4 linked regions of the Homo sapiens genome follow. The protein of the gene in region 1 purifies or fractionates together with the protein of each later gene. This does not show direct contact. Each region holds a gene or a part of one and is shown on either strand. Other genes may lie near its edges.

Region 1 (7,444 bases):
ATAAAAAAGTTAAGTTAGCCTCCCAAAATTTAAAAATGCCTGCTCATTGAAGGGCTTAAGAAAATTAATAGCCAAGTCACAAACTAGGAGAAAATATTCATAATGCATATATTCAACAAAGAATGTGAATCCATAATACGTGAAAGCCTTCTACCTCATCTCAAATAAAAGGCAAAAAATAAATTTTTAAAAACAGATAAATGACATAAACAGACACTTCACAAAGGAAGATACACAAATGACCAATAAGCACATTTAAAAAGTACTTGACGGCAGGGTGTGGTGGCTCACACCTGTAATCCCAGCACTTTGGGAGGCCAAGGTGGGCAGATCATGAGGTCAAGAGATCAAGACCATCCTGACCAACATGGTGAAACCCCGTCTCTACTAAAAATACGAAAATTAGCTGGGCGTGGTGGCACTGCACCTGTAGTCTCAGCTACTTGGGAGGCTGAGGCAGGAGAATCTCTTGAACCTGGGAGGCAGAGGTTGCAGTGAGCTGAGATCATGCCACTGCACTCCAGCCTGGCAACAGAGCAAGACTCCATCTCAAAAAAAAAAAAAAAAGTACTTGACATCATTAGTCAATATGGAAATATGAATTAAAGGCATCATGAAATACCCTCCTATATGCACTAAAATGGCTAAAATTTAAAAGACTGACATGAGCAGATGTTGGTGAGGCTATGGAATTTTTATATGTTGGCTTTTTGAAGTGCAAAGTAACGCAACTATTTTAGATTTTGGCAGTTTCTTCTATAGTTAAAAATACATGCAACTTATGACCCAGCAATCCTATGCCTATTTACCAAGAGAAGTAAAACATATGTTGACCAAAAAAAAGTCTTGTGCCGTAATGTTCATGAAAGCTTTATCTAAAATAGCACCAAAATAATCCAAAGTTCATCAATGAATAGAGTGGATAGACAAACTGTGGTATTTTTGTGTATAGAATACTACTCAGTAATAAAAAAGGTACTACTTTGCTTTATATGCTATAAATGGATAAATTTCATAAACAATGTGTGATCCACAATAAGCCAGACACACAAGAAATACATATTTTATGATTCCACTTATATGGAGTTTTAGAACAAGCAAAACTAATCTATGATGAAAAAATGAGAAAAGTGGTTCTCTGGAATGGAGGGTTGGAGTTGACATGGGAATTTTCCCATGATGGAAAAGTTACGTATCTTAATAGGGCTGTGGGTTACACAGGTGTTTGCACTGTCAAAACTCATAGAACTGTAACATGTAATATCTCTGCATTTCACTATACATATAATATGCATCATTTTAAAAAATTAAAACAAAATTAGAAATAGTTTCTTATAAAAAATATTAAATCAGAATCCTTCTAGAAATGAAAATGATTGCCATGTTAAGAATGTAAGATTTCAGGTGATTTTGTTTTAGGGCATTCTCTGTTCATTCATTCATTCATTCAGAAACTATTGAGTAACTATTATGTGTCTGCCACTACTCTAGGTGTTTTGAACATATAAATGAGCAAACCAGACATAAATGCCTGCTTTTAAGATGCTAATAATCTATAAAGTAAGTAGAGAGAAAGAAAATACAAAAAAAAGTAAGTAAACAAGACAGTGTTTAAAAATGTGAGAAGTGCTATGAGAGAAAGAGAAAAAGCCTACCATCCTATTATATTGCTATATCGTGCTTCAGCTGCCTGATACCATTTTATTAAAGTCATGGATATGCCTATATTTATGGATTAGCATTTTTGCCTTTATTAATTGATTGATCATACATTAGAAGCATTCCAGGAATAGAGGGGTGTGTGTGTGGCCTGTGTGTGTGTGTTTCAAAGTGCTGGGTTACCATAGTTGCTTTATTCTTAAGCTTTTGCAATATTTAATGCTTGAATAAATATCTATCAGGATATCACCTGGAGCGTGTGGAAAGTTTGGTTTCAAGGACATTGTGCTCAATGCTAATCGCATTCCATGGGCTACTGAGTCACAGTCACATTGAGTTATCGAGTCAAAGCAGCCTTTTTGTCTTCTGTATGAAAGACAAGCTGCTCAAATGTTACAGAATTCAGACACCAAAGTCATTAAGATGTAGTTGTACATAAAAGATACAGCACTGATAATTCAAAATAGACAGGAAGAATGTGCTGTAGGAATAATTTTTCTTCAAGTCATAATAACTGGCACCAAACATAAAGTCCTATTTTTCTCCTTCACTGCCCAGCTGGGAAGGAGTCACTGAGACAACTTGTTATCTGCCAGTAACACAGGCATTGCAGTTAGGCCTTCAGCTATGGAGAGATCCTGCCTATTTTCTTTAACAAGACATAGACTGAAAACATATGAAATCCTCCATCAAAAAGCAGTAGTACCATTGACTCAAAAGCTTCTGCAATGAGCTTATCCAACATACTGAAATAGGAAGCACCAAGTTGCTTTTCTGTAGCTAGAACACATACACATAAATAAAGTGTTATTAATGTTTGCTCTTTTTTTGTTGTTTTTAATCAGGTCTTTTGGAAAAAATCAATCTCGAATCAAGCTCTATATACTTAGCCATGGATCTCCAACTTTAAATCTATGCTGCAGTATAAGATTCTTCCATGATGACTTCTTAGCTGTCTCTAGCTTGTTTCCTGACCTTTGCCCATGCGTATGTGATTCTGCTCACATGGAATGCCTTCTCACCTTCTAAAATGCCACCCACTTTTCTAGTTCCAAATCAAGTATATTCCCTTGGTGAGATCTTCTGCAACCAACATATTAAGAAGTGACCTGTCCCTCCTCTCAACTCATTGTAGCATGACCTTTTATATTACTTATTTTGTCTAGAAATGTTCCAAGTCATTTTCTGTTATAATTATCCCCCTTACAGGTTCACAGCCAGATTACGGTAATTAGAATTGTAGGCTCTGTATGCAGAACCCTGTTTAAACTGAGGTTGCCGTCTCCAAATTGATTTGCAAATGTTGTTATCTATAGCTTGCAGCCATTATGAATGACCTGCCCACAAAAGCTCATCAAACTTACACCAAATCTGAAGTATAGTATCAATAGCACCCCTTGCAGAATTATTTTTATTTTTCTGAGAAAAATGCATTTTCTCAGAAAATATAATATGCAATTTTGCTGTACTTCTATGCTGCCAACATCAAGCTGATCAAAAGTATGTAGGTGATCAAAAATGCTTAAATGGTTGCTGGTGATAAAATATTCTATTTAGTCCCACAAATTGGTTGATGGCTTCCTAAGGAATCCACAGAAGTAATCCTCACGCTATGTTTTCCAAATTCAGCAGCTTCTGTGAAACCTCACAGGAACTTCAAATGATACATGGTTTCTAGCTGTCAAGAAAACCCTGTCTGGGGCAGGGGCATGGTGCGGAGGAGACAGGTGTTGACTACATAGTGCCACACAGCACTGTCTTGCCGTGATTTCCCGGAGATTTTATTGAAGGGGCTTGGGCTTGCTTCAAGTCATTAAATTGAGTCAATTTGTTGCTTTGTTTTGGCTAAATTTATAAAAGCACAAAAGTTTAAGGTAAGATAATACTATTTGGCCTTTTTATCATCTTTTTTTTTTTTTTTTTTTTTTTTAAATTTTTGAGACAGAGTCTCACTCTGTTGCCCAGGCTGGAGTGCAATGGCAAAATCTCGGCTCACTGCAATTTCTGCCTCCTGGGTTCAAGCGATTCTCCTGCCTCAGCCTCCCAAGTAGCTGGGATTATAGGTGCGCACTGCCACACCTGGTTAATTTTTGTATTTTAATACAGACGGGGTTTCACCATATTGGCCAGGCCGGTGTTGAACTCCTGACCTCAGGCAATCTGCCCACCTCAGCCTCCCATTCAGCATCTTTTTTTTCTTTTTTAAACACTGCTACTCTACAAAAGCATTTGGTAAAGAAGGCAGTTAAAGATAAAGCAGAAGGAAAACAATCTGGTTCATGAATGTGCCTTTGGTCTGAAAAGCAGTCAATAAAAATATGAAAATAAACACTTTGAAACAAAGGAGATTATAAAAATTAAACTAAAGCAAGCCTTCTGCTCATTTCCTTTCTTGTCCATTTCTTTTGGGTGAGCCTCACTTTTTCCTTAATAATTAAAGCAAGAAGAAGAATCATTCCGATTTGTGAAAGCCGCATCTTTTCTCTGAAAGCCCAGTTTTGTGGCAGAAGTGAGAAGAGCTGCCCTTACCTCTCAGTTCCCCCATATCCAGGGTTGTCCCCAGTTGTTCTAACAAAGCAACTCTTGCCGCATTCTTTTTGTGTTTCTTGCCATCATAATGTTGCTGGGCCATCAGAGGGTTATTAAACCAGGCTGCACAGAGCCCACAGTATCTGTCTGAATCTCTTCTTTGATAGGGAGATGCGACCACCGGAGCAGTGTCCATCCGTGGGGGCTTAAGTGGGCTCAGGGGTGTTGCTGTGAAAGGAAACAACCAGAGAACCACAGCCACGTTAGTCCAACACTGAGTCCACTCTTCCTCAATACCCGAAGACCAAAAGTCTCCTGTTCACTCTAGAGCTTAAACATCCCCAAGAGTTCATTGACAGCAGGAAAATTAGCCCTGCCAGCTTTCATTTTTGAGTTGGGACACAAATAAAAATTCTTAATGTATTGAGATCAGAGTTTGCATGTCGTTATACCAAAATCTGATAATTCAAGAGACCATCCCTTAGGGGAATAATAAGATTTTTAAAAATAAATTCTCAGTTATTCCCACTGTGGCTCTCAGGAGCTATGGACAGTAGCTCTAAGTATTTGGCTGCCTGGAGTAGCTTTGAAAACACGGTTATTGAAGGCCTTTCCCACTCACTTTTAAAATGCATTCTGCTCTAACATTGGCATTTAGAGAAAAAAAATGTAGTAAAATACAGGGGACAAGCTCAATGAGCCAGGTAAAACTTGAGCAATAACTTAATTTTTCTAGCATCACTAATAATGCAATAAGCCTATTGTAATTGCCTTCAATTATTTTTGTGTGTGTATAACACTAAAAATAAATATTGGATAAAATGCAACTAAATAAATAAATTCTTAGAGGTAAGGGAGTGATCTATCAGTCAAAATAAAGCTAATACTTGAAGTAAACATTGGACAGTCATGACTTAAAAGATTCCGAATGAATGAATTGGACGTTTGTGTGCTATAAATGTAATTAACCAATAAATAAAGGATTTGGCTAAGTGGTAGAAACTGATCTTTTGGTGACATGGGTTGCATTAATTGAGGAAGTCATGCTAATTTTATTGTCAGCTGCTTCAGTTTATTGTAATAGGCTGTTTTCAACCTCTACCTGCTCACGTTGATGCTGAAATAACAATGTTTTTTTAAAAATCAAAAGAAAAATACTATAGATCAGGTGTACTTATCTAAACAGAATAGACATGTATCACTATTTTGAGATTGCATTGTTCCACCTATTAAATTAACACATTTTACTGTGAGCTTAGGATTATTTCTGGTCCAGAAAACAAACAAACAAAAAAGAGCCTAACTTGAAGGAGCTTACTAATGGAAAGTAAAAATAACTTTTCTATGTATTACAACATACAAGTTGCTTCCATCCTTACAAGGACTATGACTTGGCCTTTTATCCCATTTCTCAGATGAGAGATTGATTTCAGAAATGCCAGTGGCTTACTGAAGGTGAGATATCTAGTGATGGGAAAAACAGGACTAAAATGAAATCTGGAATTCCCAAAGCCAATGTTCCCTTCAATACTTTCCCAAGGATCCTTTTCATACTTCTTAATAAGCTAAGGGACTTTTTTTCTAGATCCATCATCTTTCTATTTCATATAGGATTTCATTAAATTTTGGAAAAAATATTCCGATCCAAATATTTTGGAGAAGAAATCAGTATGTAAATTCTCACATGGGCCATTAGTCCTAAAGCAGTATAGCAGCATCCTGTGTGTGTTCTTGGTCTCTGAGATGTAGGATGCAGCTGGCAAAACCACGAGCATTAGGGTTGTCGTTCCAAGGAAAAGCTGAGGTCCGAGACCTCAATAACAAGTTAAGGAACCAATTAACCAACACCCCAAGCTTTCAGGTAACTTTTAGGTGGACTTTTTTTTTGATTAAATAACTTATATAGAAACAAATACTTGTTAAGTGACATTTTAATTCAAGTAATGCCTGTATCATAACAGTATTTCTAAGAAGCTCTTTTTTCTTTATCCAGAGATTTCATTATATCGAGAAGTTTTAGCTAGTTTAGATTAAACTTAATGGTGTTATTTTTACAGGGACTCACAAACAGTACGCCCCTTAAAAGACTCATTGTGGGATTTGGTCATGTTATCACCATGTAGAAATAAAGCTCAAATGTGGGCCATTCCAGCAGCCACCCAGTATCATTCTGCTATGACTTAGAAATAAAAGCTACAAATATGCAGTTGACCTGGATGTGAAAAGATCTCTATCCACTTTTCTGAAGGTAATTGAATCTCACTTTCAAAGCTTCCCAAATCCTTATCAATTTCTGAGGATTTATAATTAGCTATTGTTTTTGATGGCAATGGAAAACATATCAAATGTCTACAATATGAATAAATGTTGACTCTTGAAGCATAATTTATTTTTCTTTAAAGTAAGCCCTATAAAACATTTTAGTCGATTTTATCAACTGATACCTTCTACACCATATCCTGGTAGGAGTGAGGCACAATAGAATATTCATCAAATAAGATAATCTTATCTTGCACATAAGAAAGTAATTTGATGTAGCTTCTCCCTCTGAATAATTCCACTATCTTGTGTATAGTCTGAAAGTTTAAAGGATTTTTTTTTTTTTTTTGCTTCTGTTGTAACTGTCTTCACTCATTTCAACCCAGCTTATATTCCTTTAGTGCCTATAAAAGCAGGCAAAGGCAGTAGCATAAAAACAGCCTTGAATCAAAGACAGAACTCTGGTTGGGTGGGACTCCACTATCAGTGAGCTGTGTGACCTTTGGCAAATTTCTAACGTCCCTGGTTTCCTCAAGGTAAAAATTCAGACACACCATCTCTTTTAAAATTAACATACTTTGCAGCTAACCCATAGGGTGTGGACAGAACAAATTGTGGAAGCTCTGTCCCTTCTACAGCTTTGATTCAATACCAAATATAGAAATTATGTGGGAGGAGAGCAGTTTCCAGGTTTTAATGATAAATCTGTGTGTGTACATGAACCCTAACACTTACATGCTTTGGCAGAGTGTATTATTCCAATAAAATGAATGAAGAATGGGGCAAAGATTATCTTTTGGTTTAAAAACATGCTTTAAAAAACACTTTAGTTGACATGTAGTTAATTTCTATTTTGATTTCATAGTTTGTTTTTATTCTAATTGCAAAAAATATTAACTAAATATTTACTTTACCTGCCCTTTATATAGATTCAACCAAAAGTCAATTAATCGAAACCAGTAATTTCAACATTAAACTCACCAGGCTTTAAAAGTTT
Region 2 (7,444 bases), on another chromosome or scaffold:
AGTATTATCCCATTTGTGTGTGTGTGTGTGTGTGTGTGTGTGTGTGTGTGTGTAACAATGCACATTTACCCATATGCAAAGAATACATCTGGAAAGTGACCAGGGAAACAAAGTGTAGCCTCCAGACTATGAGACTGAAGCCACAGGTGGGAGGGAGGACGGAGGAGAAGTTTACTTTCACTCATCCTCTTTTATACTGTTGTAGGGGGAGGGGCGGTTACTCTGTACCTACAAATTCAATACTAAAAACAAGCTCACGTTTTATTGAAAAAAAAAGAAGACCCATGCTGTTTGGCCTCCAAGGGGCCAAAATTCTCTTGCATGCCTTCTATTTCTAAAAACAAAGCTGCCACAACAAAGGGTGTTGTTGGATTGAGTTCTGCTCTGCAAGGGGATTGGCCTCTGGAGCAGAGAGCATGGCATCTGCTCACTATCCCTGCTCAACCTCTGGCTTGCCAACTCTCCTCTCAGGCATTGAGGCTGAAGTCTTGGGACTGTGTATGAACATTCTGGGTCTCTTGTATCCAAGCATCCACTAAGCCTGCATGTGTCTACCCAGGAGCAAGAGTTAGCCCTCTCCCACTCTATAAGGCAAAGACTTACATTTCCCTGTGCAAGAGAATGGGATATAAAAGTTGGGATGCCTGACCCCTGGACCTTTATAATAGAGGCTGTTACATTTCTCAGACTTGCTTGCAACTTGGAATAGTCATGTGACATAATTCTAGCCAATCAGATGTAAGCAGAAGTCACTCAATGATACTTCTCCAGGTGTAGCTGGAAGACACCATTTTTCTCCTCTTCTCTTCCCTTTATTCATGCCTGAAATGTAGACATGATGACTGGAGCTCCAGCAGCCATCTTGAGATAACGAGGAAGAGGGTCACACCCTAGGAATGGTCAAGTGAGAGCCAAAAGGAACCTGGGACCCAGATGATTGCCAACCTCTGGCTCTCTTTTATGTAAGCAATAATAATAAATCTTTAATCGATTTAAACCACTTCTGTTTTTCAGGATTCTGTTAAAGAGTAGCTGAATACAACTCCTGATTGAACAGGCTGTGCAAAAGGAGAAGGAAGAGGAAGAGGCAGAGGAAGAACTGAGTCATCCCCAAGCTTGCTAATAAGCCTCAGAGTTGCCCAGTTTTATAGCTGACAATGGGTCACCCAGTAAGGTGGCACAGCAAGGATTAGATTCAGAATCCCTGGTATGCTCTCTGGGTTCAGCCTGATGGGTAAAAACTATAATACAAAACTATTATTCATAGGACCTTATCATTCCAACAGGCCCTATAGGGAAGGATGGACATTGGACTCTACTTCTCTACCCTGTTCTCCCACTGCACACATGAAGACACAAAAGTATACACACATGCAGATGCATGTGGAGCACACATGCTCACATCTTCACATATGTACTCCTGCTTTTAATCTGCTAAGAGGTCCTGACCCCACCTCTGCCCAAGACCTTTCTCCATCACCTCCACAAGACCAGGTCTTACCATGAGTTGTCTGGCAAAGGCACTAAATAAGAGGCAAAATAAGTATCAGGAGGGGCAGTGAAGTGTTTGCTGAGTCCCTGTAGGGACTGGAGCACTTATGGTATGCTTCATATTTTGGCACTGAGTTATACATTGACTGTTTTTCATATTCCTGGACACATATCAGTCTTATCACCTATACAGCCAATAGTCACCCCAAGGGGGGATTGGGTTTTCTAAAGCAGTGGTTCCCAAATGTCCACCCATGTACCACTTGCATCAGAATCATTTGGAACATTTGCCAAATTTTTATTCTCAGGCCCCACTTCAGGGCAATGGAATCAGACTTTCTACTGGCAAGACCATGGTATCTGTATTTTTTCCTAAGATCACCAAATGATTCCTGTAGTAGAGCTTTTTAGGGCTTGCGTATTCTAATTTTTCTTTCCTCCTAACCAAAGAAGACCACAGTGATTCTGCTTTTGCAAGTTAGATGGGCCATAGTGTTCTGGCAAATTGGCTGTGAGTGGAAATGCCACGTGTCACTTCTGGGTGGGGGCATTTAATTATTATTGCAAGACCCTCTCTTCCTCTGCTGCAGGAGGAGCCTCCTGCTCAGACAGTGAAGAGAACCCATAGCTTCCTCCTTGTCCCAGGACTTCTTCCCCTGCACTGACTCCACATCAAGAGTAGGACAGGGTTGACCCATGAAGGTGCCCTAGGAAGATACTTCACACAAAACAAAAACTATAGTAACTATTTGATAAAAATTTGTTGAGGCTGGGTGTGGTGGCTCATGCCTAATCCCAGCATTTTGGGAGGCCAAGGTGGGAGGATCACTTGAGGCTAGGAGTTTAAGACTAGCCTGGGCAATACAGTGAGATCCTATACTTTTTTAACTAATAGGAAAAAAAGCTTGAAAGTAAAAAAAGAAGTGGGAAGGGATAGAAATAAGAGAAAGTAGTTTGTTTTAGTGTCTACACAGCAAACCACCCATTGAGAACATATTATGCATTTGTAATAGTAGAACAGAAACTCCAGCTCCTTTGAGTTCTATAAAATGCAAATTTGCCCAAGAAACAAAGTAAGGAAGTAACTTCAAGGGAGCCATCCCCATGAAGCAACCTCCAATTTAAATGGAGTATATTTGTTAGAATGTTGCATTGGTGAGCCATCTGTTGTTTATCACGTAGCCATGGCGAGGGGCTGAGCAATCACTATTCCTCAAGAACATTTTCAATCTGCATTCTAACATCTTGACTCAAGCTAAGGAGGTGTCTACTTCCTGCTGCAAAAGAATCCAGTGGGGCCAGGAAGGTTAACATTAACAACTGCCTTAAAGACAAGATGGGGACTTGGAACATTACATTGCCAGTGCCTGGGGCCAATCCTGTGGATGGAGATATCTTCCAAAAGCAGAGGAGATTAATCATTATCAGAACAAACCTGCCCTTGGGAATCCCCTACACAGTACAGAGTTGGACTTCCAGGTTAGATTCTCAGGAGTTCGTAGCTTGCAGGGATATAAACCACCCAGCAATCCCATGACCTCTGCATCTTTTAGAGGGATGTTTTCTGATAGCTTCCTTGGAGCAATTGCTGATCATCTACTATGTCTGGGACATAAAACTAGAAACTGGGGCCAAGATGTATTAATCTCAGTCCCTGCATGCAAGAGTTTTACCATCTAGTTGGGAAGCAAAACATGCATTTGACAGTAAACACAGTTTTACAATGTTAACTGCCAACTCTACTGTCCAGAGCCCACATGTCTGTGTAGAGGGCAGGGAAATATAAGATGAAGATAAACTGCAAAATAATGTTAGCAGAGAGTGTGGTCAGATCCAACATGTGAGATCATAAGAGTCACAATAAGGACAAGAAATATTGTTTGAGCTTGAGAAGGAACGTTCTTCACCAAGGAGAAAAAAAGATGAGATTGAGACAAATGTCACTTGGAAAAAGGAAGGGTGGAGACGGAGATTGCACATTCAGTTTGGTGAAGCTGCACCCTCCCTATTAGATTAATAATTTTTAATACCATCTGGATGTGCTTCTATATACATTCTTTCACTCTGGGTCCCTGGCACCACCTATGTCTTGGGTCCTTCCTTTTCACTCTTCATTTCCACAGAAGCCCTTCATATACAAGGTGTGTTCAAAACAAATGGCATGATGAGGGGGAATGAAAATGAGCTTGAATCCCAACTCTCTCACTTGCTGGTTGTGAAATGGGGAAGAGACTTAACCTCTCTGAACCAGTTTCCTCTGCTGTAAAGCAGTGACCATGGTAGAGCTATCATAAGGATTCAATGAGAAGAGGTGTAGAGCCACACACACAGCAACTGGGAGAGTGGTGCTGAATCAATGACAGTTATGATTATTTCTGGTAAAGCGTAAAGCTTTGTTAGAAAAGAGGAAAATGTGACCAGCCAAGGTCTTTCCCCCAGGGCTCCTGCTCTCCAAAGAACCCCGTGAGACGGCAGAGCTACCACGAGAGCTGATCAAGTGCTCTCAAGTGGCAGGCACTGTGTCTGAGTATGTGCAGATCCTAAGTCCCAAAGATAACTCCGCAGTCCTCATCCACAGAAACTTATTGGAAAAATGGGTCTTTGCAGATGTGATTAAGTTAAGGATCTTGAGATGGGGAGATCATCCTGGATTAGCTGGGTGGGCCCTAAACACCATCAAAAGCATCCTTATAAGTAAGAGGCAAAGATAGGCTAGACACACAGAGAGAAGACGACGATATGAAAATGGAGGCAGAGATCAGAGTGATGCAGCCACAGCCAAGGAATGCTGGCAGATACCAGAACCTGGAAGAGTCAAGGAATGGCCCCTCCCTTAGAACCTCCAGAGGCATTGTGGCCCTGACAACACATGCAGTTCAGACATCTGGCCTCCAAAACTGGGGGAGAATAAATTGCTGTTGTTTGAAGCCACCTAGTTTGTAACTTGTTACAGCAGCCACAGAAAACTGATACACCCTCAAAGCAAGTACTGTCACTATCCCTATTTTACTGATGAGAAAACTGAGGCAAAGAGAGATTGAATTACTTGCCCATAAAGTGGGGCAAGAATTCTAAATGTGACAGTTGATGCCAGAGCCCCATACTTTACCAGCAAACTGGACTGCCTTGGCATCTCCCTAAGACCAAGGCTGGGCTACACTTGGCTGGAGAAATCCTCCCGATGCCACCTGATCTCCCTCCCAGAGACAGAAGATTGGTCACCCCACTTCATGGTGTGCTAACCTTTTAAAGCAATGCCTGGAGCATAGTAAATACTCAGTGACACTTAGCTAACTTATTATACTGTCAATGAGTTATCTTTCAGATCCTGCTAACCAGGCCTTGGGGGTCCATCATATGGAGGTGGGAAAAGCAAGATGGGGACTAAGAGGATGCCTGTGAATCATGGAAAACAGGAGAGAACTGAGGTAGGGGAGGGGAGCAGGGACTGCCAGCTGCCTTGCAATATTCATGCTCCCCTTCTTTCTTAGTGTCAGAGGTAAATTCTATCTTTATTCAGGCAGAAAAGTACACAGCTGAAACGTTATATTTTTTCAAGTCCTCTTTGTGGCTATGAGTATCCAATGAGATTTAAGTAAAATTGGTTGGGTAGGGTTTCAATGAGAACCCTTTGAAAGGCTGATGCAGCAAAAATTGTTCTGCTTCTACCTTTTGCCTTTCTCTCTTTCTTCCTGGAATGTAGACACGATGGCTGGAGATCCAACAGCAATCTTGTGACCATGAATGTGCTTGAGGAGGGAAACCACAAAGGGTTTAAAGCACATAGGCTAAGGATGGTGGATCAGAAATACAGAAAGCCCCTGATATCTTGTTATACCATCTATCCCACCAGCCTTGGACTGCCCACTTCTGGATTCTTCTACAAATGAATACAAAATCCTAATTTGTTAAAGACATTATACTCCAGTCTCTAGTGGCAGCCAGAAACAATCACTTACTGATATAGGGTAGAACAGCAGTTCCCAGAGATTCATATGGCATCAGTCCAAACAAAATATTTTTGGTGCTGATAAGACAGAAGTTGAGATTTGAAAGTTACCATTTGTTTAGACCATGCACTTACCAGATGATATTCTTTTCTTTATTTCAAAGCTCACAAAAACCTCTGTCTCCTCCCTGCTTCCCCTCAGTTGGTCCTTCTTTCAGATAGATGTGTGAGTTCTCTCTCACACCTATCCTAGGGCCTGCTTCTTAGAATACTCAAAGCCCCTTGCCATACACTGGGCTGATGCAGTGATGTGGCTGGGTCAACTAACAGACTCTACAAAAATGGGGTTTGAGCAGTGGCTAGCCTCACTTATGTTCAAGCGCAGTTCCACCCATGAGTTAGCGTCCATGAAAACCCTGCATTTCACTGGGAAGAAAAAGGCTGAATGTGTGTTGATGGCCTAATGAGGTCTATGGTGAGAACTGTGGCTTTAAATAAGATGACCCCACCCTACTTCCATTAAGGATCAGGCTTTACCACCAAACACACACCTTAATTAAGGACTTTATGAGCCTGAGCAGGACTGGTATAAATAGATCAAAATACTGACACCATCCCCAGGCAACTCAAAGGAGCCCAGTGTCCCCATTTACTCCAAGGAGGAGGAGAAGTATATTTATCTGGAGAAAGTATTTCTAAATAGAATCTAACTCCTAAATCCTATACTTTCTAGGAAACATTAGTGATTATAGACTCAATTATATTTTTGAACCCTATAATCAAGCATAGGTACCAAGCATAAAAGTTAATTTGCACCATCTGAGGGCTATAGAGTCTCAGCAAAATGATTTCAATTCATTTTCGATCTCGTCCTTGTGCATAAGGATGTGCCTAACTTTGGTTTCCAAATGTTTTCACATTACTGAAACTTTGGCACCCACCATCTTGTTCCCCAGATTTTTGCCCATTCCCCTTATTCAAAGATAAAACAACCAGAACAACTCAGTTGATAAGGTGATTAGCTTTTACTTCAATGATTTTGAATGCCTGCCCTGTACTGGATCCTCCATAGGATATTGTCAATGACAAAGTTCCGTGCAGGGAAGGGGGATTATTGAATATACGCCAAAACTTCTTATCTATCATCAGGGTGTTTTACTGCAGTTGCAGACATGACTAATGTACATCAAGCAATTAGAGGGCAATGCAGAGGGAAGAAAATGCAGTGTCCAAGTTCATGATAAAGACCCCAAGCTCCATGAGTGGTTAGGAAGGAAACAGATCAGTACAAGCCAGGGTCATGGGGGAAAGCTTCATGTATGAAGTGAGGAATTGGAGATAATTCTTAAAGGACAGGGGAAAAAATGGAGAAAGAAAAATAAAGACTACTTCAAAAGTTGTCACATATGCCCACGATCAGTCCCAGGTCTTCTCCAACTCTAATTTCTAGGACTGAACATTTGCAAATCATCTCTCTCCTTTCTTTCACCATTGCAAAAATCTTTCTAGAACTGGCAAGTCAGGAAAGATATTTTTCATTCAGTTTCAAAATTATTTCTAATGCTTTGGCATTACACTTCTCAAGTGACTCTAGGGATTACATTTCAACTCCCTTCTTACACAAATTAAGGAAAGTGATATTCAGAGAGATTATATGACATGTTCAAGATTACACAGCAAGTTGGGCAGAGCAAGCATTAGAAGTTAGGTCTCTGGATTTCTATTTCAGGTTCTTTCCATTCATGGTGGAATTCTGAGCACCTGGCTCTCCTGGTCCTTTAAATATCAGACATTTGCCCAAGTGTGAATATCCAAAACAACAGACTGTCCTCAGAAAGGCAGCCTATTCACCCTCCAGGAGGCTGAGAGAGGGGCATGATTACATCATCCACGATGGCTCCTTCCTGCTCCTGGGGAAATGGCACAACACAGAGTACACACACTGAACTCCACTTATGTCCCAGTCACAGCATCTTCACATACACCCAGGATGGATATCTTGTG
Region 3 (3,772 bases), on another chromosome or scaffold:
GCCAGCTTGCTTAGGGACTTTTACTAGGACAGAGGGACTGCTCCCCTGATGTCATCAGGCCCCTGGTGGGGAGCAGAGTGAGGAAGAACAGTGAGAACAGAGGGGCCCGGGTGTCCCTGCCACACCAGGAAAAAGAATGTGGTTGTTTGACACCCTCTTCCCTCTCTACCATCATGCCTCCTCCTGGCTTGCTCACCTCTTCCAGGAAGACTTCCCTGACTCTCCTTCCAGGCTTCTCTGAGTTTCCAGGGACTGGAAGGCCTTTTCCCTTTCCTCCGTCCCCCAAGCCCAGGATGATGCTGTCTTCAGGAGCCTGACCCTCCTGCCAGCCTCAAAGGGGAGCTCTCCTTCCCAGAAGGCCCTCTGTGCACTGAGAAGGCCCTCAGGTCTGAAGCCTCCAGTGGACTTCCACTCCAGCCTGCGTCTGAGCACCAGAGTGCTTGGCTCCCAGCCACTTCTGGGCCCTTCTCCCCCTGGGAACTCTAGGGTGGGCCGGCCAGAAGGTCTGAGCATGGCAGAAGGTATTGAGCATATCCCCAGGCCCACACCCCACTGTCATTCTCCCTGTGTTCATTGTTAGCCAAGGCGTGCCTCCCTGAGGCCCAGGTTCCTGCACTGCACCCCCTGTGTCCCAGACAGGGTGAGGGAGGTCAAGGGAGTTTCAAAGGAGCCACGTTTCTGAGAGGAGAGCAGGAAGATGACCGTGCCTTCATCAGAGGGAAAAAGTGCATTCAGAAGAACTGCAGCCTGTTCCTCTGGGGACCCTCAGGGAAATGGTCATTCAATACAAGAGAAGTGACAGACCAATGGTTTATTCCAAAGGGGAAAGCCCAAGCTGGATGTCTCCCTCCCCAACCCCTGCAAGCTGGCCCATCCTTCCAGAGCCCCCATAGGCCTGGGGCTGTTGAGACGGGAGATGTCCCCACTGTGCTGCTCCTGGTTTTGTCTCCTCTCCAATCCTTGAGCACCCTGATATGCAACATGGGGGGTAATCAGAAGGAGGAGGCAGCCTCTGATGGGGCAACGGCTGAGGGTGGGGGCAGTGTGTAAGGCACCTTTTGCGGTCAGCCCAGCCACACTCCATCGCCAGAGAGAATGCCAAAGTGTAGACTGAATGAAATTCTGTAGGCAAATGGTAAATGGTAGCTGGGCCAGTAGCTATTTGCATGGGTGGATTATATCATGTTAAGGGAATTCTTTATCTCAGCAGAGGGAACAGAGGAATATCTTGGCTAAGGTCATCCTGCCAGTCAGGAGAAGCCACCCTCCAGGGACCACAGACTCAAAGTGGCTGTGGTGGAGACCCACCGCCTGGGTAGGGTGATGTCAAGACACTGAGAGGTTTCCATCTGCAGTGGCCAAGGGCTGCAGGTTCTGCCATGCTGGGCATTGATAGGTAGGACGAGAGAGAGCACGTAGGGCCAGTCCTCTGGGAAGCAGGAGGTGGGCCATGTGAATGGGAGATGGGTGGCTGTGCTGTCCAGGCATCTGCTGACAACATTGGGGGATAGGGCCTTGGAGAGAAACGTCTATAGGCCTGGAGACAGCAGGGCGTGGGCGGGAGAGGCAGGCTGATACCATGCGGGTACTCACTGCTAGCCCCCAGATCCAGCCCGAGAGGAGGAGGCTGGCGGGTTAGGGCAGGCCCCAACCTATCTCACCCCTGTGATGGGTTGGCCTCTGAGCACAGGAATGATGGTGACCATCTGAGGTCACAAGGCAGGAAAGGAGTCTGAATGGAGTGTGGCCAGTGGGGAAGTCGGAGAGGCCGGAACTGCCCCCAAGAGGCTGGCAGAGGGCTGCAGAGGGCAGGTGCAGGACCAGGCTCCCTCCCACCCAGACAAGCACAGTAGCTTAGAAGGCAAGAGCAGCAGGGTCAGGAGGAAGAGCAGGGGTGTGGCGCCTCGTTCCTTCCGCCAGGAGCTCATGGGGCTTCGTTGGACCCAATCCCGTTGCCTTTGTTGACGTAGAATGGCCGGTAGTGAGACTGTGGGGGAAACAAGAGTGGTCAGCGAGGCCAGACGACAGATGAGCCTGCTAGCTAGACCCACCCTACCCTAACCTGCCTCAGGAGGCAGCAGTGATCCAAGACCCGACAATTCTAGGGGCCTTTTTGGCCTGATCTGCAAGATTTACCTACCCTGTGATCAGGGGCTGGTCCCTAATGTCAGGATCTCCAGATTGGAATCCTAATTGGAGTCCATTCCCATAGTTAGTGGGTGAGCTTGAACCTCAGCCCCCGCATTACACTGGTCGAAATTTCTCTCCACAGCTCAAGGAGGTTCCTCCAGCGCCACCACAGCTACTATTTATATAGCACTTTCTACTCCACAGAACTTCACAGCACTGTGTCGAGGGCTGTATGTGGATGCACTCATTTAATTTTTACAACCACCCAATTAAATAGATTACTATTATCATATTCAATTTATAGTTGAGCAAACCAAGGCACAGAGAGGCTAGGCAACTTGCCCAAGGTCACTCAGCTGGTAAGCAAGGAGCCAGAATCCAAGCCCCAGCAGGCTGCCTCCAAAACCCACACCCCCAGCTGCCAGTTCTCGGCATCACTTCTCTTATGGTGAGGGCTTCCAGGATTTTCTTTGCCTCTCTCTGCATAAATTTCCCTTACAGAAAGGGTGCAGAGAGGGTAAAGAACTGCCCCAGTCCAACACGGTCCCAGGCTCCCCACAGCCCTTTGCCTCTCTCGTCCTGTTCCTCTTCCCCCAGCCATTGGTACAGGGAGCATCTCTGGAGAGAGAGCCCAGTGACAGCTCTCCCAGCCTTCTCCATGTATTGTATCTCCCAGTAATTTCATGAAATCAGCATGCCCCACCCTGCCCAGATAACTTCATCAGGGCCCTGAGGAGGCAGCCCTCCAGGATGGAGTGGAAGAGCACAGCTTAGCTGCTGCTCACCCACGCAAGCACCATCAGCCCCCGGGGGTCTCAGGAAGAGGATTTGTCCCTGAGCTGGGTCAGAGACTGAGCCCACTCCCATGCCCTGCAGATCCCAATACAGGAGACATCATTTGCCCCTCACACACACACCTCAAGGGTACACTGCCTTTGGCCCTGTCTCTCAGGGAACTGACACCTCCTGGTCAGCTCCTTGCCTTTGTGTGGTCCACAGCAGGACTTGAGGGATGCTCAGACCTTGCTTAAACCACCTATTAAACAAAGGAAGAAACTGAGACCCAGGGAGGGGTAAGAACAGCTACTTACTGGCAAAGCAGAGCCTGGACCAGGTCTCCTGACCCCCAGGGGCCAGCCTGGACCCCAAGCAATTCATAGGGCAAAGTGAACAGATTTGGAAATGGCTGAAGCCTTTCTTTGAGGAAGATTGGGTCAATAATATGGGTTGCAGGTCAATGAATGGCATTGTCTGGTTAAAAGCCTGGAGTGGTAGGTGGGCATCAGGGCAAAATGCTACCTTCACCCTCCCATCCCCTCCCTGGCTTGAGGTCACAGCACATACAGCAGGTGGAAGAGCTGCAAAATCATCCTAATTATGGATGGGAAAACTGAGGCACAAAGGAATCATTTTTCCTCATGCAAAGTCACACAGCAAGTCAATGAGACAGCTGGGGCCAGCCCCCAGGGAAATTGATTCCCAGCTCAGCTTCTCTGCAGCCCAGCGCCTGTCTCCACTCTCCCAGTGCTGGGTGCCTGCTGGACACCAAAACCTTGCTCTGCCAGGGGCCTCAAAGTGCTGATGAGCCTTCTCTTCAGGGCCCCAGGCTCTGAGAGGGTGGAAAAGTATGTAGTAGGGAGGG
Region 4 (6,286 bases), on another chromosome or scaffold:
TAATCCCTATCTAGGAGTGGCTGACTACTTCAGGGTGTAAGAACGTGGAGCTGGATCTCAGAAAGGCCTAGATTCTCACCACAGAATATTCCATCATAAGGCAGTAACTGTAAAATATCTAAAAACTTTTTTTTTCTAGCATAAAGTAATGCTGCCACACTCATTCACTTGGTATTTCTCAAACATCTCCTGCAGAATGGGCTCTGCACAAGTTGACCAACTGCAGACAAATGAAAAAAAAAAAAGAACCACAAAAATAATTGTTCTAAAACACCAGCAGCATCTAGGTGAAGGGATTTACCATACTCTCCGAGTTCCATAATATATGCTATATAAATATTATTCCCCCTCCTTCCTGCACTTCACCCAGCACCCTAGAACTGTGGCACTTAGTTTTTTAATATAAGAGGTTGTAGTCTTATTTTCACATGTCCTTGTTTCTGTCTCACCGGATGCCTGTGCCTTCTGTGCTCCAAGGACTGGTTTCCTTTTAGCTTTCAGCAACATACAAAGACTCCCTAGACCTTCAGAGCACATTATTCTCAATAGAAAATCTTGACATGTGAAAACTTTGAATATTTAGAAATGGCAAGTGTATTGCACTTTGTCGGTTCCTCAGTTTATTTTACGGTCGTAGATATTCTGAGCTAATTCTTTTTGTCTTTGTTTTCCTTTTATCTGCACTTTGTATGTTGTTCAGAGGAGTTGCCCTGGATGGCCCCTTCCAGCTCTGACTGCCAGGGATCTAAGCAGGAGGGAGGAGAGGGGGCGTGGTCGAGGCGAGCGACAGAAGCAACCCTCCCCGGCCCTGGGCAGGGTTCGCCACCCCGTGCCCAACCTCCGTGGAACGCGGACAGCCACTTCGGACTCACGTCTCAATGTTTCTTTATTGTGCTAACACTGCTGCCTCAGAGCTCAGACCTCACACACAGAACAATTCGTCCAGACAGACCCCCACCCACCCGGCCCCCGGGGCCCTCTGCTTAGGCTGGGGACACCAGGCCTCCGGCCTCAGCCGCTCTAGGACACTCAGCCTCCTCCTCCCTCCCTCTCCCCCAAGCCTTCGGTCCCGGGGGTGCGGAGAAGGCTCAGGATCGCCTTCCTCCGCCCTCGCCCGCCCCTTCCCACTTTTGGGGAGGAGGCTCTGCCTCCCTACGCATTTCCTTAGGGAAATGCCTTCACCCCCAGCCGCCTGGCAGCCTGGGGCGAGCGAGGTCGTCCCCAGCCCCGACGTGTCCCCAGCTGCAGACAGAGAGCCCCGCGCCCTCCTCCTGGCTGGGGCGCAGCCCGGCCCGGCGCGCGCGCTCACACCAAGAGGCCGTTCTTGCACTGCACCGGCCCCTCGGCGCAGTCAGCCGGCTCCGCGCTCTTGACCTTGACGTAGACCGGGGAGGGGCCCGCTTCGCAGGCGGCGGCGGCGGTGCAGGGCGCCAGGGCCACGTCCTCGGGGCCGCCGCAGGGGGGAGGCGCGTACTTGCGGCGCAGGGAGCGGCTGACGTTCTGCGTCGGGTACCCCAGGAGGTGGGTGACGCGGCTGCCGCGCCCGCTGGCCTTGCACCCGGGCGCCACGGCGTCCTCTCTGTGGAAAACAACAGGCGGGCGGGTGAGCGGGCTGCTCCGCAGCGGGGCGTGGGCACGGCCTGGGCAGAGCCGGGGGCTCTTGGCAACCTCTTGTCTCCCGCGCCTCCCTCCACCTGCCCTCGTCTCTCTCCCTCGGCCTCGACCTACTGTCCTTTGTGACCCTTCCTGGGTCGGCGACCCTGCAGCGGTCCCGGAGCCAGCATCCCCATCCTCCAGACAGGGCTTGTCCACGCGTATCTGGAGAGCCCTGCAGGCAGCCCCCTCCAGGCCCCTGCAATCCCTTTCTGATGTTTCGCAGGCCCAGAAGAAGGTGCTTTTCCTCTTCTTCTTTCCTTAGCTAATCCTGACCTTGCTCGAGCAATCTCTCTCTTTCTCACCTCCTGCCCCTCAGTCTTCTCCATCTTTCCCTCCATCCCCGAGGCATTGCAATCATTAGCACTACTAGACTTGTTCTATTTTTATTTCTAGTTTGCTTCTAATATAAGTTATTAGCACTATTCTTATTATTAGCTCTTCTTAAATAATAATGTCAGAGTTCTTACCGGCGCAGTACAGGGGAAACGTGAAAAAACATAGGCCCTGCCCTCCAGGAGCTTACAGTCTAGACAAGACAGACAGGTGCGTAGGCAGGAGGGAAATGGAAGGCAGGGAGCAGAGGTGAAGACTGGGGTGGCAGGGGGAGGGGAAAGCCATGAGTTGGGTGGCAGGTCGACATGCCGCAGTCCCAGCACTCCGTGGCGATGGCGGGCAGGGTTGGGGTGGGGGGCCCAGCCGGCCGGTGGCAGGCAGGAGTGAGGTGGGCAGGGCGCCGGTTCCCTGCCGCACAGCAGCATGCAGCATGCATCAGGTTTTACCTGATCTCACTAGCCAAGTCGCCGCAGGCCCCTCCGCCGACCCCGCCGCCGTTGCCGTAGCCGAAGGCACCGCGGGCGCCGCCAGCCCCGGAGCCCCCGCAGCAGCAGCAGACGAGCCCCCAGATGCCTACGGCCAGGCAGCCCAGCGCGAGCAGAGAGCCCAGGACGATGCCGATGATCACGCCTATACGCCGGGAGTCTGTGGAGAGAAGTGGAGGCAGGTCAGGCTTTCTCACAGCCTGGCAGGTGCCTGAGGGAACAGCACCAGGAGGTGCCAGGTCAGGGGTTAATGGGAAAGAGGGAGAGGGACCCAGGGGGTCTCTTAGCCCTGGAACACCCAGTGGGGAAGATATGGGGAGATGCAAGTTAACCCCTCGTGTCAGCATGCTTCTCCCAGGGCTTCCAGCTGCTCTGGGCTCTAGAGCTCAGAGTGGAAGCTGTGCTGGGCGAGCTTGACCCAGCTCAATAGGGTCAAGATCGTACCCACTGATCTTGGCCCACTTGTAGGAAAGGGGCTGGGAGCCCCCACTGGCAAATGGATGGCAGTGGAAAGGCAGAAGCAGCTGAGGCTCCAAACCAGAGCCCAGCCTCCTCCAGTTCAACCCTCCCAACCACCCAGCCCTCAAGACTGCTGCACCTACCTGAGACCTTCACCTCCACCACACAAACACTGTAGCCCACGTTGTTGGCCACTGTGCACTGATACAGCCCATCATCTGCTCTGGAGATATCCTTCAACACCAGGTCCCCATTGTTCAGGCCTGAAAGTGAAGTGGAGAGAGGCCTGGTCTCTGAGAGCTCCCACCCCAACCTCAGTCCCTGTGGGGTGGGGGATGGGACACCCACTCTAGAAGAAGGGAAGGCTTATGCATGTGTGTACACCCACACCCACACACACACACACACACTCCACTCTCCAGGTGAGTCACCTTCCCCCTGCTGTGAAAGAGATGCAAGAAAGGACCTCTCTCCCAGCAGCAAGACAGGGACACCATTAATTCACTCTGACCTTAGGGAAATATGTACGCTCTCTGAGCCTTGGTCTCCTCCTTTGTACAGTGAGGACAGGAGAAGCCAGGGGAAGAGGAACTCTAAGGTCCCTCCTAGCTCTATTATTCTTTGTTTGACTGAATATTTTCAGCTTCTCTATGTACTAGGAGCTTTACACACCTCCCCCATTTAATCCTTGCATGCCCATGAAAGGTATATGTTAGTATTCCCTTTCCATATATGAAGAAATTAAGGCACAGGGAGGGTAAGCCACTTGCCTTAAACTTGGAGCCAGTCAGTGTCCCAGCCAGGATTCAAGCCCAGCTCTGTCTGAGACCAGGCTCCCTCCAAATTCGCCATAGTACTTTTGACTGACTCTCCACATTTGCCTTATCATCTGCTCTCAATAGCAGCTGCTGGGCCAGGCACGGTGGCTCACGCCTGTAATCCTAGCGCTTTGGGAGGCCAAGGCGGGCGGATCGCCTGAGGTCAGGAGTTTGAGACCAGCCTGGCTAACATGGTAAAACCCCGTTTCTACTAAAAATACAAAAAATTAGCCAGGTGCGGTGGTGCATGCCTGTAATCCCAGCTACTCGGGAGGCAGAGGCAGGAGAATCGCTTGAACCCGGGAGGCAGAGGTTGCAGTGAGCCGAGATCATGCCATTGCCCTCCAGCTTGGGCAACAAGAGCGAAACTCTGTCTCAAAAAAAAAAAAAAAAATAGCAGCTGCTGGGGCAGGCCCAGAGGGAGGGTCTCCCACAGGGATTCCAGGTTTGATTTGATGGCACTGATAACCCAAGGAAACCCCAACAGGTCCCAGAGTCCCTGATCTTCCACTCACCCCCGACTGCCCTCATCCAGGGCCCTCTCACCTTGGTTTATGGAGCTGTGGAAGGACTCCTGGTAGGACAGCTCTGAGTGGTAGCTGTGCTGGGAGGTGTAAGACCCAGCTCGATAGGGGTAATGGTGCCCACTGATCTTGGCCCACTTGTAGGAGAGGGGCTGGGAGCCCCCACTGGCATAGCACTTCAGCACCACATCGTTGCCATATGTCATGTGGCCCTCTGTCCAGCACATGGGCACTGCAGGTCGTGCTGCAAGGAGGCAGACAATTGTAAGCCAGGGCCCAGCCAAGAGACAGAGCCAGGCTCAAAGTGGCCAAGCTGCCCTTGGCTCTTAAGCCAGGGGGAGAGGAGCTTAGAGGAGTCTGGCCATACCTTGGACAGTGACAATGACCTTCCGGGTGGCCATGGTGGTCTTCTTCACCCGGCACTCATAAGTGGCTGTATCAGATACCTGCAGGTTCATGAGGTTGATGGAGGCATCGTACTGGCTTGGGTCTGAGGCTGCAAAGCGGACCCTCTGCTGCAGATGGGGAAGGCTGCCATGGTTGATCCTCTTGTCCTGGTAACTAAGGAACTGTGAAGAGGAGAGGAAAACAGGTGGTGAAACAGGCAGAGCCAAGAAGGGCCATGTGGATTGGCTGCTTTGGGCAATTCACTGAACTTCTCTGAGACTCTTTTCTCAGCTGAAAAAATGAGAATAATGATGCCTGAGCCACTGACCTCTTACAGAACTGGTGAGATCAGGTGAGATCAAGCACTTGGAAAGATATATGGTCAGACTGGGAACTTTTTGAAGGCAAAGACTACAACTTATCTTCCTTTTAGAATGGGATGGGAGGAGGTAGACTGACTGGCTAGCTTAATTCACAATTGCAGAGCTCTCATCCCCATTGCCTCATTCCCTGAAAGGCCTTGGGGGAGGTTCAAGGTCAGTCTTCTCCCTTTGGGATGTTGGCTGTCCAACAGGTAGACATCATGAAGCCTAGAGGAAGGAGACCCCTGTGCCCAGCACTCACCACGTTCTCTCGGTGGTGGGCGGGGTCTGAGTTGACCTGCATCCACTCGATGTCCAGCCCATTGGGACCATAGTCCTCAGGGTCCAGGACGTAGGGGCAGCCCAGCCTCACATTATCACCTTCTGCCAGGTACAGGACCTCCTGTCCATCCCCGTTGATCCGCACAGCAGACAGCAGTGCTAGGGGGAGGGCAGAGAAGATGGGGTGGTAGGAGCAGAAGCAGGGCTTCAGGAGGAGTCAGTGTCAGCCCTTCCCTTCATATTCTCTGTCCACGGCACCCAGAGGTCAGCAGTGCTTTCATAAAAAGGAGGGCTGCTCGTAGTGGGTGTGTATGTGTGTGTGCATGAATTGTCACAGGCATATAACAGCTATACATATAGCTGTTATATATGTAGCTGTTATGTATGCTTGTATGTATATATGATTATGTGTATGCATGTATGAATATGTACACGTATGTACATTGTATGCTTATGAGTATTTGTGGCTGCTTATGTGTACTGTGAGGATATTCATGTACATGACCACGTAGCGTGTCTGCTTATATATTTATATGATAGTGTGGATGTGTTTGTGTGTGTGAAGGCATGTGGTACACACAGAGTTGTTAAATGCTCTGATAGAAGAGCCTGGCTGATTAAATGTCACCTATGTGGGCTCTGTCTGGGCTGAGTGAAGTCCTCCTGTCCAGAGGCAGCGGGGTGGTTACAATGGCTTCTGGGACTCCTCTCCAGCCTGAGAAGCCAAAGACTAAGTGTGTCTATGTGTGTCTGTGTATGACAGTGTGAGTCTGTGGCTGTATGCCTCTGTGTGGTTTTGTATAGTGATGTGTGACCATGTGAGCTATGTAAGTGCTTAAAAGTGACAGTGTGTGCTTGTGCATGACAGTGGACAGCTGTGACCAGGAGCCTGGCTGTGTTCGTGTGTGATAGTGAGTGATGGTGTGTGCCTGGGACTATGGCCACAGGTATCTGTAGGACATTGTGAGTCTTTCTTGACT

The links.
Region 2: the proteins of ZMAT4 (region 1) and HEPHL1 purify together in Homo sapiens (affinity purification with mass spectrometry; 2 studies listed by BioGRID and IntAct, with this or other methods). This does not show direct contact.
Region 3: the proteins of ZMAT4 (region 1) and TRIM29 purify together in Homo sapiens (affinity purification with mass spectrometry; 2 studies listed by BioGRID and IntAct, with this or other methods). This does not show direct contact.
Region 4: the proteins of ZMAT4 (region 1) and VSIG8 purify together in Homo sapiens (affinity purification with mass spectrometry; 2 studies listed by BioGRID and IntAct, with this or other methods). This does not show direct contact.

Annotation. Positions count from the first base shown.
Region 1 is NC_000008.11:40,670,516-40,677,959, forward strand, and holds part of ZMAT4 (zinc finger matrin-type protein 4), read right to left. Parts: intron 4,417-7,444; coding exon 4,189-4,416; intron 1-4,188.
Region 2 is NC_000011.10:94,023,941-94,031,384, reverse strand, and holds part of HEPHL1 (ferroxidase HEPHL1 precursor), read right to left. Parts: intron 1-7,444. UniProt on the Homo sapiens protein: Is a copper-binding glycoprotein with ferroxidase activity. It oxidizes Fe(2+) to Fe(3+) without releasing radical oxygen species. May be involved in the regulation of intracellular iron content.
Region 3 is NC_000011.10:120,110,490-120,114,261, forward strand, and holds the end of TRIM29 (tripartite motif-containing protein 29), read right to left. Parts: intron 1,988-3,772; coding exon 1,925-1,987; 3' UTR 797-1,924; downstream 1-796.
Region 4 is NC_000001.11:159,853,448-159,859,733, forward strand, and holds the end of VSIG8 (V-set and immunoglobulin domain-containing protein 8 precursor), read right to left. Parts: intron 5,466-6,286; coding exon 5,287-5,465; intron 4,845-5,286; coding exon 4,643-4,844; intron 4,520-4,642; coding exon 4,298-4,519; intron 3,197-4,297; coding exon 3,077-3,196; intron 2,714-3,076; exon of another isoform or gene 2,635-2,713; coding exon 2,436-2,634; exon of another isoform or gene 1,580-2,435; coding exon 1,306-1,579; 3' UTR 869-1,305; downstream 1-868.